Regions from separate parts of the Homo sapiens genome. Here all the other regions are linked to region 1. The links come from fine-mapping of genetic effects on gene expression. A gene starts in region 1. Each other region holds a variant in brackets. All regions are shown on one strand. Distances are between the middles of the regions. Region 1 holds the start of EARS2 (glutamyl-tRNA synthetase 2, mitochondrial). Region 2 overlaps GGA2 (golgi associated, gamma adaptin ear containing, ARF binding protein 2). Region 3 overlaps PALB2 (partner and localizer of BRCA2).

Region 1 (5,348 bases):
CCCTGTCCAAAAAGGAGCTTATTCTAGGGAGAATATAACCAGCCACGGCTCAAGAGGACAAAGCCTCAAATTTCTCAAGACCAAGAAGCACAAGATGGACTCACTTTCTGCCTGCAGAGAGGCTCCTTCTTGTTCTCTTCGGCCTTTGCATCCTGCTGCGCAGCATCTTTGGGTGTGTTTACTGCTAAAACATCATTGATGGTGGAGCCAACCACCATGATCTTGGCCCCACTGGTCACTTTTATTTCTCTCAATGTTTTATCCTCGGGGACGAGTCCCTTATACATGACTTTCTGCATGGCAGGCGGGAGACCTTGGGAAAAGGTAGAAGGTGGACAGTGAAAGGAAGGAAGGACAGAAAAATGTATGGATACTACACAGCTCTTTGGTAACAGACCAAAAAGTGAATACTGCCTCCACCACCTATTAGCTTTGTGAACTTGGGAGATTTACAACCTCTGAACCTCAGTTTCTAGAACTGTAGAAGATTTATTAGAGTAAGTCCTTCTGTACAGACCTGTTTCAAGGATTAAGAGACCAATGCGGGGCATTTAGTACGGTGGCTAGCATTGAATAATTGTTCAGTAAGTACTAGCTCTCATTCTTTCCAAGTTGTTCCTCAGTCATCTAAATCATTCACATATTAAGTGAGAATCCACAGGCATCAGAGCTACAGAAGCCAATAGGGACAAAACTCCTGTTCTTAATGGAGATTACAAGGCTACATGTAGAAAGCTTTAAAAAAAAAAAAAAGTTCAAGGCCAGGAGTGATGGCTTATGCCTGTAATCCCAGCACTTCGGGAGGCCGAGGTGGGTGGATAAAATAAAAAAAACTAGCCCGGCGGGGTAGCGGGCACCTGTAATCCCAGCTACTCGGGAGGCTGAGGCAGGAGAATCGCTTGAACCTGGGAGGCGGAGGCTGCAGTGAGCCAAGATGGTGCCAGTACACTCCAGCCTGGGCAACAGAGCAAGACTCCGTCTCAAAAAAAAAAAAAAATAGGAAAAAGAAAAGAAATCTCAGATGGCAAAGAGCTATGAACAAGGTAAAATTAAGAAACAGAATCGACTGTGAAGAACCAGCATCAAAGTCAATAGCAGCGTTTCCTAAACTTCACTTAGAAGAATTACCTAAGATATTTGCTAAAAATAAATTCCTGGCTACATCCCAGACCCACTGAATCAGAATCTCCTGGGAAAGGGCCCAGAAGCTGTAAAACAAGCGCCTTAGGTGATTTTTTAATTAGAGATGTTAGAGCAACATCAATGAGAAACTGGGGCCTAAACGTCAGACTTCGGCTTTAATCCCAGCTCTGCAACTTACTAGCTCTATAAACTTGAGTCTCTTTCCCCAGCTGAGTAATGGGCATCCAAGTATCCTTCAGAAGACTGCTGTAAGGATGGGGGGACCTGATGCAAGGAAAGCCACCAGGTGCCTAGTAGGGTGCAAGGGCCATCAGGAGGCGGGGTGGGGAAGACTGGCTGTCAGCGCCACAGGAATTACCTGTAATCGAGTGGATCTTCTGTTTCAGCTCGGAGCCTGTGCTGTCCAGGGGGAACTTCACGTCATGCTTGGTCTTATTCCAGATGATCTTCAAGTCCACCAGCTCCCTGCCCGCGCCGCCGCCCGCGTCTTCGCCGTTGCTGACCGAGGCCTGGGCTGCGGGGTCCCCAGGGGGCTGGGCCGGGGCCGGCTGCAGGCTGCCTCGTGCGGCGCCGGAGTCCTCGGCCGCCGCCCCCGCCGCGGCTTCAGCCTCCAGGCAGTTGACGGGCCGCGCGGGAGCCTCAGTAGCCACAGTCTCGGCCTCCGTGTCCATGCCAGGTTCCTCCATGCCTGCAAGGGGGTTAGGGGGTGGGCGCTCGCCGCGGGCTGGGCTTGGGAACGGACGCTGTCCGGGCGCCGCCGGACCTCCGTTCCCGAGCCGCGGTTCTCCCTCCCGGGCCGGGCCGCATCCCCCAGAGGAGCGACCGCAACCTCAGCCCCGGCCCGGCGCCCGCCACCCCCGCCGCACTCACCATCCGGGGCCCCGGCCGCCGCCATGATGATTGTGTACAACACCCACCGCTCCCGCAGAGGCCGCTGGGAAGAGGCGAGCTGGCTGAGATTGGCCCCCGCAGCAGCCCCTAATCTCTCACAGCCCGGCCGGAAACAGGTGGAGGTTTCTATGGAGACCCGCCTCCTCCGCTCCCAGGTCCGGCCCCTGCCACGCTTTCGCTTTCCCAAGCTGAAGGGGGCGGGTCCGGGAAATAGCCCTTTCTCTGGCCTCTGCCCCCTGGTGGCGAGTGCGGCCGCAGCCGTCCAGGGGGGCGTGGGATTTCGCGCTAGGGGGCCTGTGACTTTAAGGGGCAAGGCTGCGCTGGCTGTGGCGGAGGCCGATTGGCTGGAAGCAGTCCCCGGAAGTGACGCAGGGAGAAGCCCACGTGTGCTATTCCATCCCACATGGCGGCGCTCCTGAGGAGACTGCTGCAGCGCGAGAGGCCTTCGGCGGCCTCTGGCCGCCCCGTAGGACGGCGCGAGGCCAACCTGGGCACTGATGCCGGGGTTGCGGTGCGAGTGCGGTTCGCTCCCAGCCCCACAGGTAACCCTGGCGGACGTGACGCTACAGGCCGAGGCCCCCTGTCCCGTCTCCGCCCCACGAATGTTCCCGAATGAATCCTTTCCGGTGGTGTCAGAGTGGGCGGGCGGAGGAGGGTTAAGGCAGCGCGAGCCCATTTTACAGAGGCGGAAACTGAGGTGCAGGAGCGGAAATAATTCAAATTGCCAGGAGTTTCTTGTGTTTTTTGTGCCATCCCATCTCTTTCGATCTTTTTTTCATGCATTCCATACATGTGCATTGATGACAACCTGTGTAACAGGTGTTGTAGACGCTGGGATACAGTGATCATTGAGAAAGGTAGGGGCCTTGCTCTGTGGAAGTCTGCATTCTAGTGGCTGCCGCAGACACTTATAAAAAATAAGTGTAATTTTAGAGTCACATGTGCCATGCGGGAAGTGAAACAGGATAGGAGACTGGGGATTAAGAAGGACGCTCCAGAAGGCTTTACTGAGCAGGTAACATTTGAGCTGAGATCCAAATGACAAGAAGGAGCACGCTATGTGAAGCCTATAGAAGGAACCTTCTGGAGGCCAGGCGCGGTGGCTCACGCTTGTAATCCCAGCACTTTGGGAGGCAGAGGTGGGTGCATCACTTGAGGTCAAGTGGATCACTTGAGAGCCGTCTGACCAACATGGTGAAGCCCTGTCTCTACTAAAAATACAAAATTATCTGGGCATGGTGGCGCATGCCTGTAATCCCAGCTACTTGGGAGGCTGAGGCAGGAGAATCGCTTGAACGCAGGAGGTGGAGATTGCGGTGAGCCAAGATCGCGCCATTGCACTCCAGCCTGGGCAACAAGAGCGAAACTGTGTCTCAAAAACAAAAAAGAAGGAACCTTCTGGGTAGAGGAAATCGCAGGTACCAAGGCACTGTGCTAGTGCTGTTGGGAGCTTAGCAAGCTAGAGGGTGACAGAGGCCCATTGTATAGCCTGTTGGAGATCTCGTCAGGGCCTTTTGGTTCCCACCAGTAAGGCTACCTTCTACGTTCTCTACACGGAGTATGCCTCTCATCCCAAATCCCAGGATGAACATACAAAGATCTTTGTAGTAAAATCCCAGCTATACATGACAGGATCTTTCTGGCAGGCAGTATAGCCTAGAGCAGTGCCTTTCAAACCATCTGTTGTGGAAGTGCTGGTTTTAAATTTCCAATCAATTGTGTATCAATATTTGCACAAAATTAATATAATGACCAGAAAAATAAAATTTTGAAAACATCCAAAATACAAACCAATCTCATTTTATTTGGGTTAGCAGAGGTAAAATCATTCTGCCAGATTGCTATGTAAGTTTCGCCTGGCCAATATGGCAAAACCTTGTCTCTACTAAAATACAAAAATTAGCCGGGCATGTGGCCCAGGCCTGTAATCCCAGCTACTCAGGAGGCTGAAAATCGTTTGAACCCAGGAGAAAGAGGTTGCAGTGAGCCGAGATCGTGCCACCGCACTGCAGCCCGGGTGACAGAGTGAGACTCCATCTCAAAACAACAACAAAAGTTTCTAAACCTTTACTCTCAGTTTCTGTACTTGATTGTGAACTGACAACTGTTTTCAGACCAGCACTGGATTGCACACTTTGCTTTGAAGAGCACTTATGTAGAATGCCAAAGCCTGGGATTGCCTGGGTCCAAATTTCTGTCGTGGCCACTTATTAGATGTGTAACTTACTAGATGTGCAAATTATTATTGTTATTTTGAGACAGGGTTTGGCTCTGTCTGTCGTCCAGGCTGGAGTGCAGTGGTGCAATCTCGGCTCACTGCAACCTCAGCCTCCGGGGCTCAAGTGATCCTCCCACCTCAACCTCCCGAGTAGCTGGGACTACAAGTGTGTGACCACTACGCCCAGCTAATTTTTGTATTTTCTTGTAGAGATGGGGTTTTGCCATGTTGCCTGGGCGGATCTTGAACTCCTGAGCTCAAGTGATCCACCTGCCTTGGCCTCCGAAAGTGCTGGGATTATAGGTGTGAGCCATCACACCTGGCCTAGATGTGCAAATTATTTAATGAATCTGAGCCTCAGTTTCACCATTTGTCAAAACGGGGCTAATAATAATATCTGTCTTATGGGGTTAAGCTCATGCAGCCGAACCACTTAGTAAGGTCTAGTACACCCAGAAAGCACTTAATACACAGCCTCTATTATGATGATTGTACTTCTCATTTCCTTGCTCATTTGCGGGGAAAGCCCATGTGGGAAAGGCTTTTGACTATAAACAGATAAAAGAATTATCAGGCACAGATCATTACAGTAGCTGAAATTAATTGAGGGTTTACTTTGGTCAGCATTTAGACCTCAGAGCAACCCTATAATAAAGAAGGTTCTTATTTTTTTGCTCTTAATCCCTCTGACAGATGAGGAAATAGAAGCTCATAAAAGTTAAGTAGAGTTCCTTCTCAAGGGGTAGCAACTAATAAATGGTGGATGCAGAATTTGAATCCAGGTGTACTTGATGTAAGAGGCTTTGTTTTCAGCAGCTGGGTTCCTCTTTTGTCTTGGGGACTCGTGGGACTCAGTGCCACTGAATACCACTGGTTTTCTGGTGTCCTTGCAGTAACTATCCGAAGGTTACACACATCAGTGTTGAAGCAGGGTCGGCCTGGCCCCAGAAGAGCTTTTTCTCTCCTCTGCTGCCTCTTGTACTTGTAAATGTAGATGAGCTCATTGTGGAGACTTAGGGCTGTGGGCTGGTCCGAAGAAGGTACGGTAAGAGGTAATGACAACTCTGGAAAAGCTGTTAACTTTCAGTTTTCAGAC
Region 2 (5,000 bases), 72 kb after region 1:
CAGACATCCCCTGGGAGAAGTAACCCCCACATCCCCCTACCCCACTGAAAACCAGTGGCAGGCCAGGCACGCTGGCTTACGCCTGTAATCCCAGCATTTTGGGAGGCCGAGGTGGGTGGATCACGAGGTCAAGAGATTGAGACCATCCTGGCCAACATGGTGAAACCCTGTCTCTACTAAAAACACAAAAATTAGCTGGGCATGGTGGCACGCGCCTATAGTCCCAGCTACTTGGGAGGCTGGGGCAGGAGAATTGCTTGAACCCGGGAGGCAGAGGTTGCAGTGAGTCGAGATTGCGCCACTGCACTCCAGCCTGGCAACAGAGCAAGACCCCGTCTCAAAAAAAAAAAAAAAACAACAGAAAAGAAAACCAGTGGTGTATTGGGATAGTCAGAGTGCCTGCATCGTAGTGTCCTTGGACCATTTGGTGAGATGGTGCATGTAAAATGTGTGCACTGTTGTTAGTGTTAACTCTTCTGTTGCTGCTGCTTCTGCTCTAGGCCTGAGGGAGTTGTGGTCTCACCTACTCTTCCTGTTCACTCTCTGCAGCTTCTGACAAGGCTTCTAAAGAGCAACCACCCCGAGGACCTTCAGGCTGCAAACCGGTTAATCAAGAATTTGGTCAAGGAGGTGGGCATTCTTCCAGTTGGTTCAGTAGAAGTAGCATTTGACAGAGGCTGAAGGACAGTGCATATGAGCCTATGCTTGAGGGGTAGAGGAACGGTTGCCTGGGAGAAAGAGTGGCTCCTAGCCCTGAACTCTGGGGAACAGCCATAGTCTCCCTCAAGGGCAGCAAGGTGGTGATTGGAACCAGAAATCCCGCTGCCGTACTTCTCAGCTGCTTTCATCCATGCTGCTCAAAGCATTTCCTAGACACCAGCTTGGGTCCCAGCAACAGGTATTGGTATGGACAAAGTCCAGGTTTAGGAATCTGCTTTTCAGAGGACTTGAGGCTGGTGGCACAAAGGCAGAGGTCATGGTCACCAGTCCCCAAACTGCATTTTCCTCCCCAGGAACTCTGGGCTTTTGAGTATTTTTTCACCCACTGTGTGAGTTCTCCCATGCACTTAACATCCTGGTGATGCCCCTGAGCGAGCTCTCTCAATAGTGACTCTTTCCCATCCCTTGTTCAGGCTTCAGCCAGGGTTTCTGCTCCCTCACTCCCATCCTCCTCTTTTTCCCAAAAGGAACAAGAAAAATCGGAGAAGGTGTCCAAGAGGGTCAGTGCGGTGGAGGAAGTGCGAAGCCATGTGAAGGTGCTGCAGGAGATGCTGAGCATGTACCGCAGGCCAGGGCAGGCCCCGCCCGACCAGGAGGCCCTGCAGGTAATACAGGTGTAACACAGGGGGCTGCACATGTTTACTAAAGTGGGTTTGAAATGCTTTCACCTGTTTGCACCCATGAAGCCATCTCAGAGTCAAGACGGTAAACATATCTGACACCTCCCCAAATGTCGTTGTGCTGCTTTGTCCTCCCTTTGTCTGTCCCTTGCTCCCCAGTCCCCAGGCAGCTGCTAATTTGCTTTCTGTTCTGATTGGCTGACAACTCCCAGACTCTTGTATAAATGGAATGATGCAGTACATAACCCTCTATTTTTGCCTGGTTTCTGGATCTCACTCGAGATCCATTCACGTTGCTGTGTGTAGCAGTAGCTTGTTTCTTATTGCCGGGTACTGTCCCGTCACCTGGATGTACCACAGCATGTACCTGTTGATGGGCCTTGCGTTGTTTCCAGCTTTGGGTGATTGTGAATCATGCTACTGTAAACAATTTTGTACGGGATTTTGTGTGAACATCGATTTTCATTTCTTATGGGTAAATGTCTGGGATTACTAGGTCATATGCTAAGTATATATTTAACTTGTTAGGAAACAAAGTGGCTAAGCTATCTTCAAGGGTGATTGCACCATTTTACAGTCCTAACAGCAGCATATGCAAGTTCTAGCTCCTCCACATCTTGAGATCTTGGTTTTTATATAGCATCTTTATGAGATAATTAACATACCATAAAAGCAACCATCACACCTACCTAGTTATAGAATATCTTAATCACCCCTAAAAGAAACCTTGTACCCATTAACAGTCATTCCCCCTTTCCCAAACTCCCCTTTCCCCAGTCCCTGGCAACCACTAATCCACTTTCTGTCTCTCTGGATTTGCTTATTTGGATGCTTCGTCCAAATGCGGTTGCACAATACGTGGGCTTTCGTGTCTGGCTTCCTTTACGTAGCCTAATGTTTGCAGGTGCATCCATCTGGTAATGTGTCACTGCTTCATTCCTTTTCATGGCTGGATAGCGTTCCATTGTGTGGCTATGCCACAGTTTGTTTCTCCATTTATCAGCTGATGGGCATTTGGGTTGTTCCTACTTTTTGGCTATTATGAATGATGCCTTTGAATTATTCATTACGAATAATGACTTTGAACTTTGTCCAAGTTTTTATGTGAACATAGGTTTTAAATTCTCTTGGGTATATACCTAGAAATGGAATTGCTGGATCTTGGGGTAACTCCATATTTAACATTTTGAGGAACTGCCAAGCTGTTTTCCAAAGTGGCCATGCCATTTTACATTCCCAGCAGCAATGTATTGGCTCCAGTTCTCTGCATCCTGCCAACATTTGCTGTTATCTTTTTGATTGGAGTCCTCCTGGAGGGTGTGAAGTACTGTCTCATTGCAACTTTCTGTTTCTTGATGGCTTATTTATTTCCTATGCTCATTGGCAGCTTGTGCATCTTAGAAGACATGTCTGTGCAAATCCATTGCCCATCTTTTGGATTGTCTTTTTTGAGTTACAAGCGTTTTTTATATATTCTGGATACAGGTTCCTTATCAGACAGTTTTCTCCCTTCCTTTGGGCTGTCTTTTCACTATTTTGATAGCATCTTTTGAAGCGGGAGTTTTGTTTTGTTTTGTTTTTTGAGACAAGGTCTCGCTCTGTCGCCCAGGCTGGAGTGCA[A/G]TTGCGTGATCTCAGCTCCGCACGACTTCTGCCTCCCGGGTTCGAGCGATTCTCCTGCCTCAGCCTCCCGAGGAGCTGGGATTACAGGAATGTGCCAGCACGCCTGGCTAATTCTGTATTTTTTTTTTTTTTTAAGTAGAGACAGGGTTTCTCTATGTTGGTTAGGCTGGTCTCGAACTCCTGACCTCAGGTGATCCACCCGTCTCAGCCTCCCAAAGTGCTGGGATTACAGGTGTGAGCCACTGTGCCTGGCCAGTAGAGACAGGGTTTCACCATGTTGGCCAGGCTGGTCTTGAACCCTGGCCTGAGGTGATCCACCTGCCTTGGCCTCCTGAAGTGCTGGGATTACAGGCATGAGCCACCATGCCTGGCCTTTTTTTTTTTTTAATGTCTTCCTGGTGCTTTTGTTATCACATCTAAGAAACCACAGCCCAGCCGGGCGCAGTGGCTCATGCCTGTAATCCCAGCACTTTGGGAGGCCGAGGCAGGCGGATGACCTGAGTTCAGGAGTTCAAGACCAGCCTGACCAACATGGAGAAACCCCATCTCTACTAAAAATACAGTATCAGCCGGGCGTGGTGGCGCATGCCTGTAATCCCGGCTACTCAGGAGGCTGAGGCAGGAAGAATCATTTGAACCCAGGAGGCGGAGGTTGCGGTGAGCTGAGATCACACCATTGCACTCCAGCCTGGGCAACAACAGTGAAACTCTGTCTCAAAAAAAAACCAAAAAAACAAACAATCAAAAAGAAACCACAGCCTGTCTGTGCCAGGTTCGAGGCAGCCATGCTGTTGGTCTCCCTTGGAACTCTGTTCTCCACCTCCTTCTGCAGGTCTGTTTCAGCCATCTCCCTCTGCATTCCAGTTTTTTATGTCTCTCTGCACAGGAGGAGAGCCAGCCTCCACGTAACTTCTTTATTTACCTGTCCTTCCACTTCACAAGATTAGTAGAAATGAACTACTGTCTTTCCAAATTCCTAAGAGAAAGCCTCCCGAGTAGCTGGGATTACAGGCACCCACTAACTTTTGTATTTTTAGTAGAGACAGGGTTTCACCATGTTGGCCAGGCTGGTCTTGAACTCCTGACTTCAGGTGATCAGCCCACCTTGGTCTCCTAAAGTGCTGGGATTACAGACGTGAGCCACCCTGCCCGGTCAGATTATTTTATTTTCAGAAATCATACACTTGTAGCCTGTAGTCTTTTTCTGAAACTCTGTCATGTTACTTCAAAACTGCAGTCTCTAAGTCAGGACCATTGGGAGGCCTTCTGAAGCCCCAGACTCTGCCGTCTGCCTGATCGAAGGCTCCTGGGGCCCTGGAGGGGGGCGTTATGGGGTGCCTGGGCGTGTGTCATGAACCAAGCTCTGCTCTTTCAGGTCGTGTATGAGAGGTGTGAAAAGCTGCGGCCCACGCTGTTCCGGTTGGCGAGTGACACCACTGATGACGATGATGCACTCGGTAAGTTTTCTTTCCTTGGGTGTAGCTAGCAGCCCAGGTGCAAGACAGACTCGGTCCCTCCTGTCACACTGCTGTGCCAGGAACAAGACAGAGTGGACTTTCGGTTCCGTGGAGCTTGGGCTTGGGGAGGGTGTGGCCTGAGTTGCCTCAGAACTGACTTCCAGCAGGATCCAGGCTTCAGTAAGAAATCAGCAGCAGGTCTAAAGCCTGAAAAGAAGTGGAAATTGACCATGGAGATTGGGGTGTGAGAGGTAGAAGAAAGATCCCACTGGAGGCTTCAGGAAAAGCTGACCAATCGCAGGGGCCAGAGAAACAGCTGTGGGTGGTGTCTCAAGGGGATCACGGGCTTTTGTACCTTCAGGGGCCAGGTAGGTCAACTAAGAGGGCCAGGCCGATGGGAAATGGAAGGTACATCTGTAAGGAAGTGGAGAATTGTCCACAGTTACTAAAAAAGAATTTTAACTCTTTATTGTGGAAAATCTCGAAACATGAGAGAGGGGAATAGTAAAACCTATATATTCTTCACTCATCTTTAATAATTACCAGCTCATAGCTGATTTTTTTAATCTTACTTCATCTGTAC
Region 3 (5,000 bases), 73 kb before region 1:
GTTGTTGAGACAGTTTCACCCTTGTCGCCCCGGATAGGGTGCAGTGGCGCTATCTCAGCTCACTGCAACCTCTGCCTCCCAGGTTCAAGCGATTCTCCCACCTCAGCCCCCTGAGTAGCTGAGATTACAGGTGCCCACCACCACACCCAGCTAATTTTTATATTTTCAGTAGAGATGGGTTTTTGCCATGTTGGCCAGGCTGGTCTCTATCTCCTGACCTCAGGTGATCTACCCACCTCGGCCTCCCAAAGTGCTGGGATTACAGGCGTGAGCCACCAGGCCCAGCCAGTAGTTTGAAATAGTCTGCTATAATTGTAGTAAACTGCAGCTACATTTAAAAACTTTTTTTCTCAAGGTGACATTCACGTAACAAAATTAACCATTTTAAATTAAGTGAACAAGTCAATACATTTACAGTGTTGTGCAACCACCACCTTATCTCATTCTAAAACATTTTCATCACCCCTAAACCCCATACCCATTAAGCAGCTGCTACCCATTTCCTCCCCTGACCCCCTACTTCATCCCTGGGCAACCACCAATCTGCATTCTATCTCTATGGATTTACCTGTTCTGGGTATTTCATATATATGGAATCATACAATATGTGACCTTTTGTGTCTGGCTGCTCAGCATAATGGGTTTGTTTGTTTTTGAGATGGAGTGTCACTCTGTTGCCCAGGCTGGAGTGCAGTGGCACAATCTTGGTTCACTGCAACCTCTGCCTCCCAGGTTCAAGTGATTCTCCTGCCTCAACCTCCTGAGTAGCTGAGATTACAGGCGCCTGCCACCATGCCTGGGTAATTTTTGTATTTTTAGTAGAGACGGGGTTTCACCATGTTGTCCAGGCTGGCCTCAAACTCCTGACCTCAAGTGATCCACCTGCCTTCAGCCTCTCAAAGTGATGGGATTATAGGTGTGAGCCACTGAGCCTGGCCACTTAGCATAATGTTTTTAAGGTATGTTTCTGTTGTAACATGCATCAGTACTTTGTTCCTCTTTATGGCTGACTAGTATTCCATTGTATGTATATACCACAGTTTGTTTATGCATTCATCATTGAGGATATAGCAACATTTTGAATGATGTGGGATACCATTTGCAATAAGAGCGGTAAATTGCTACTCAGGAGGCTGATGTGGGAGGATTGCTTGAGCCTGGGAGGCAGAGGTTGCAGTGAGCCAAGATCTCGCCACTGCACTCCAGCCTGGGCAACAGAGTGAGACCTCGTCTTGAAACAAACAAGCAAACAAAAAGCAGTAAATTACTCTTTGCTTCAAAAGGGGACTAAGTTTTCCATAGTGAGAAGAGCCAGCATTTTGTAGAACATACTCTGGCAGCCTGTTGAAATCACAGTTTTAGAGGTAGGAAAGAATGTAGGTATTTTTAGTTCATTTCCCTTATGAGAGACAATGAGAAAAGGGAAAATGAAATAAATCGATTTGCCTAAGGTTTCACTGCAAATCAGTGGTTGAGTTGAGACTTGTCCTCAGTCCCTTCTCCTAGTTAATACTATTGACCATACACTGTTTTGTTTTGTTTGGTTTTATTTATTTATGTATTTATTTATTTATACTGTTGGCCATACACTGTTTTGTTTGGTTTGGTTTTATTTATTTATTTATTTTTTGAGACAGAATCTCGCTCTGTTGCCCAGGCTGGAGTGCAGTGGTGCAGTTTCAGCCCACTGCAACCTCTGCCTCCCGGGTTCAAGTGATTCTCCTACCTCAGCTTCCTGAGTAGCTGAGATCACAGGCACGCACCACCATGCCCAGCTAATTTTTTTAGTTTAGTTTTTTTTTTTTTTTTTTTTTTTTTTGAGACAGAGTCTCACTCTGTCGCCCAGGCTGGAGTGCAGTGGTGCCATCTCCGCTAACTGCAAGCTCCGCCTCCTGGGTTCACGCCATTCTCCCACCTCAGCCTCCGGAGTAGCTGGGACTACAGGCGCCAGCCACCACACCCGGCTAATTTTTTTTTTTTTTTTTTTTT[G/TG]TATTTTTAGTAGAGACGGGGTTTCACCATGTTGGCCAGGCTGGTCTTGAACTCCTGACCTCAAGTGATCCGCCTGCCTCAGCCTCTGAAAGTGCTGAGACTACAAGTGTGAGGCACCATGCCTGGCCTTATTTTTTTTAATTTTTATTTATTTATTTATTGTTTTTAAAGACAGTCTCACTGTGTTGCCCAGGCTGGTCTGGAACTCCTGGGCTCAAGCAATTCTCTTACCTTGACCTCTGAAAGTACTAGGATTACAGCTGTGAGCTACCATACCTGGCTAGCAATACACTGTTTTGGGTAGTGCAGAAAAATAGCTGCTAATTAATCAACTAACTCATGACCGTTGTTTGAACCCTTCGCCCAAGTTTCTGAGTCATGGATGGGAAAAGTAATGAACATTTTTTAGTATATTTGAGTTTAGAAGCTCACTCTTTGTTGGGTATTACATTTAAGAATGGTTTAACATGTTTCTTTGATAGGACTTCATTGTAAACATTAAGTTCATTCTGGGGAAATTAAGGTTCATTAAAATGTTTCTTTTAAATCTAGGAGATCCTATTCTCTTTGTCATCAGTGAAACAGATTGTCTGTTTTGTTGGGTTTTGTTACTATTTTGTGACTTATTTTTCTTCTTTAGGGAAGAAAAGTCGTCATCAAAAAGAGGATTCCCTTTCTTGGAGTAATAGTGCTTATTTATCCTTGGATGATGATGCTTTCACGGCTCCATTTCATAGGGATGGAATGCTGAGTTTAAAGCAACTACTGTCTTTTCTCAGTATCACAGACTTTCAGTTACCTGATGAAGACTTTGGACCTCTTAAGCTTGAAAAAGTGAAGTCCTGCTCAGAAAAACCAGTGGAGCCCTTTGAGTCAAAAATGTTTGGAGAGAGACATCTTAAAGAGGGAAGCTGTATTTTTCCAGAGGAACTGAGTCCTAAACGCATGGATACAGAAATGGAGGACTTAGAAGAGGACCTTATTGTTCTACCAGGAAAATCACATCCCAAAAGGCCAAACTCGCAAAGCCAGCATACAAAGACGGGCCTTTCTTCATCCATATTACTTTATACTCCTTTAAATACGGTTGCGCCTGATGATAATGACAGGCCTACCACAGACATGTGTTCACCTGCTTTCCCCATCTTAGGTACTACTCCAGCCTTTGGCCCTCAAGGCTCCTATGAAAAAGCATCTACAGAAGTTGCTGGACGAACTTGCTGCACACCCCAACTTGCTCATTTGAAAGACTCAGTCTGTCTTGCCAGTGATACTAAACAATTCGACAGTTCAGGCAGCCCAGCAAAACCACATACCACCCTGCAAGTGTCAGGCAGGCAAGGACAACCTACCTGTGACTGTGACTCTGTCCCGCCAGGAACACCTCCACCCATTGAGTCATTCACTTTTAAAGAAAATCAGCTCTGTAGAAACACATGCCAGGAGCTGCATAAACATTCCGTCGAACAGGTACAATCCATTTCCTCTGTGAAATTTTCTCTGAAGGAATGAAATGCCTTAGTGAATGTAAACAGCATGACTTGCTTGCGCATTGGGCCTTCCACGTTTAAGAATGGTTTGACGTGTTTCTTTGATATGATTTCATTGTAATCATTAAGTTCATTCTGGGGAAATTAAGGTTCATTAAAATGTTTCTTTTAAATATGGGAGGTCCTATTCTCTTTGTTATCAGTGAAACAGTTTGCATTTGGAGCTTTGCTGCTGTTATAAGAGGAAATAAAGACAATACGAAGTAGACATTTTGATGAGTGGGTAATGCAGGCAGACATTATACATAAAGTGTAGACTAATGATGTGACTTTTGTTTTCACAGACTGAAACAGCAGAGCTTCCTGCTTCTGATAGCATAAACCCAGGCAACCTACAATTGGTTTCAGAGTTAAAGGTCAGAAGAATATTCTCTTCCAGTGTCTCGTGTCTTACATATGAAAACTTTAATGAACTGAAAAGAATTCAGTCATATAGCTTCTTGTTCTTTAATACTATTAAAGATATTGGTAAACAGATTCAGAAAAACAGATTTGGATTGGTTATTTTTCCCAATATTTACCTCTGTTTATGTTTTGAGCTCTCCTCTTAAAGTTTCTATGCCAACCTATTGGCAAGAACAACTTAGGCTAAGTAACTGAACTTCATGTCTAAATCTAAGTTAGGGAGCTGGGCACGGTGGCTCACCCCTATAATCTCAGCACTTTGGGAGGCTGAAGCGGGCTGATCACTTGAGGTCAGATGTTTGAGGCCAGCCTGGCCAACATGATGAAACCCCATCTCTACTAAAAATACAAAAATTAGCCGGGCGTGGTGGTGGGCGCCTATAATCCCAGCTGCTAGGGAGGCTGAGGGAAGAGAATACTTGAACTGGGAGACAGACGTTGCAGTGAGCCAAGATCTTACCACTGCACTCCAGCCTGGGCGAGTGAGACTCTGTCTCAAAAATAAAATAAAATAAATCTAACAGGCATTTTGACGGAGTGAAATGAGAGTTATTCATGCCTCTCCTACTCAAATGGTGTAATGTTTCTGGAAGAATCACTTATGGTGATTTATAAGAAAATGGGGAGCAGTTCTAGTGGTTAATCTTTTCTGTGCAGTGTGGTAACTGAAAATGTTGCATTACTAAATGTCCTAGGTGTAGGGTTGAAGATGGGGGTGCAGAAGCTCTCCCAGAGAATCACTGGTGTGAAGGAAAACACTTCAAATCCACATAAAGTTTTTCCCAGTTACTGGCTATGTCACCTTGGACAAATTGTGTAACCTCTGAGCCCCAGATTCCTTTTCTATAAAGGATGCATAGTAATACCTATGCTCTGTTTCGGAATTTATTCTTGAGTCAATTTTAATAACTTATTTTATTTTTTGAGACAGAGTCTGTTGCCTAGGCTGGAGTGCAGTGGGGCAATCTCCAATCTCCAATCTCCACTCACTGCAACCTCCGCCTACAGGTTCAAGCAATTCTCGTGCCTCAACCTCCATAGTAGCTGGGATTACAA

What was found. PIP is the estimated chance that this variant, and not a neighbour inherited with it, causes the effect.
Region 2: its variant is the best candidate, but not a certain one, in a credible set for the expression of EARS2 in whole blood (TOPMed, PIP 0.85).
Region 3: its variant is the best candidate, but not a certain one, in a credible set for the expression of EARS2 in whole blood (INTERVAL, PIP 0.53).

Annotation. Positions count from the first base shown.
Region 1 is chr16:23,554,433-23,559,780 of GRCh38, reverse strand. EARS2 (glutamyl-tRNA synthetase 2, mitochondrial) reads left to right here and starts at 2,431. Exons shown (of 9, transcript NM_001083614.2): 1 at 2,431-2,576. The coding sequence starts at 2,438. It overlaps UBFD1 (ubiquitin family domain containing 1), which reads right to left and starts at 2,054. Exons shown (of 7, transcript NM_019116.3): 1 at 2,014-2,054; 2 at 1,502-1,831; 3 at 105-313. The coding sequence starts at 2,038. RefSeq lists silencers at 1,632-1,811, 1,912-2,001 and enhancers at 1,169-1,812, 2,072-2,271, 1,813-2,457, 2,462-2,741, 3,102-3,746.
Region 2 is chr16:23,482,340-23,487,339 of GRCh38, reverse strand. It overlaps GGA2 (golgi associated, gamma adaptin ear containing, ARF binding protein 2), which reads left to right. Exons shown (of 17, transcript NM_015044.4): 7 at 550-630; 8 at 1,188-1,325; 9 at 4,336-4,417. Among named protein-coding and RNA genes, the nearest start is that of GGA2, 26 kb to the left of the region's middle. The variant A/G (reference allele first, on the strand shown) is at 2,961.
Region 3 is chr16:23,628,099-23,633,098 of GRCh38, reverse strand. It overlaps PALB2 (partner and localizer of BRCA2), which reads left to right. Exons shown (of 13, transcript NM_024675.4): 5 at 2,630-3,459; 6 at 3,824-3,895. Among named protein-coding and RNA genes, the nearest start is that of PALB2, 11 kb to the left of the region's middle. The variant G/TG (reference allele first, on the strand shown) is at 1,990.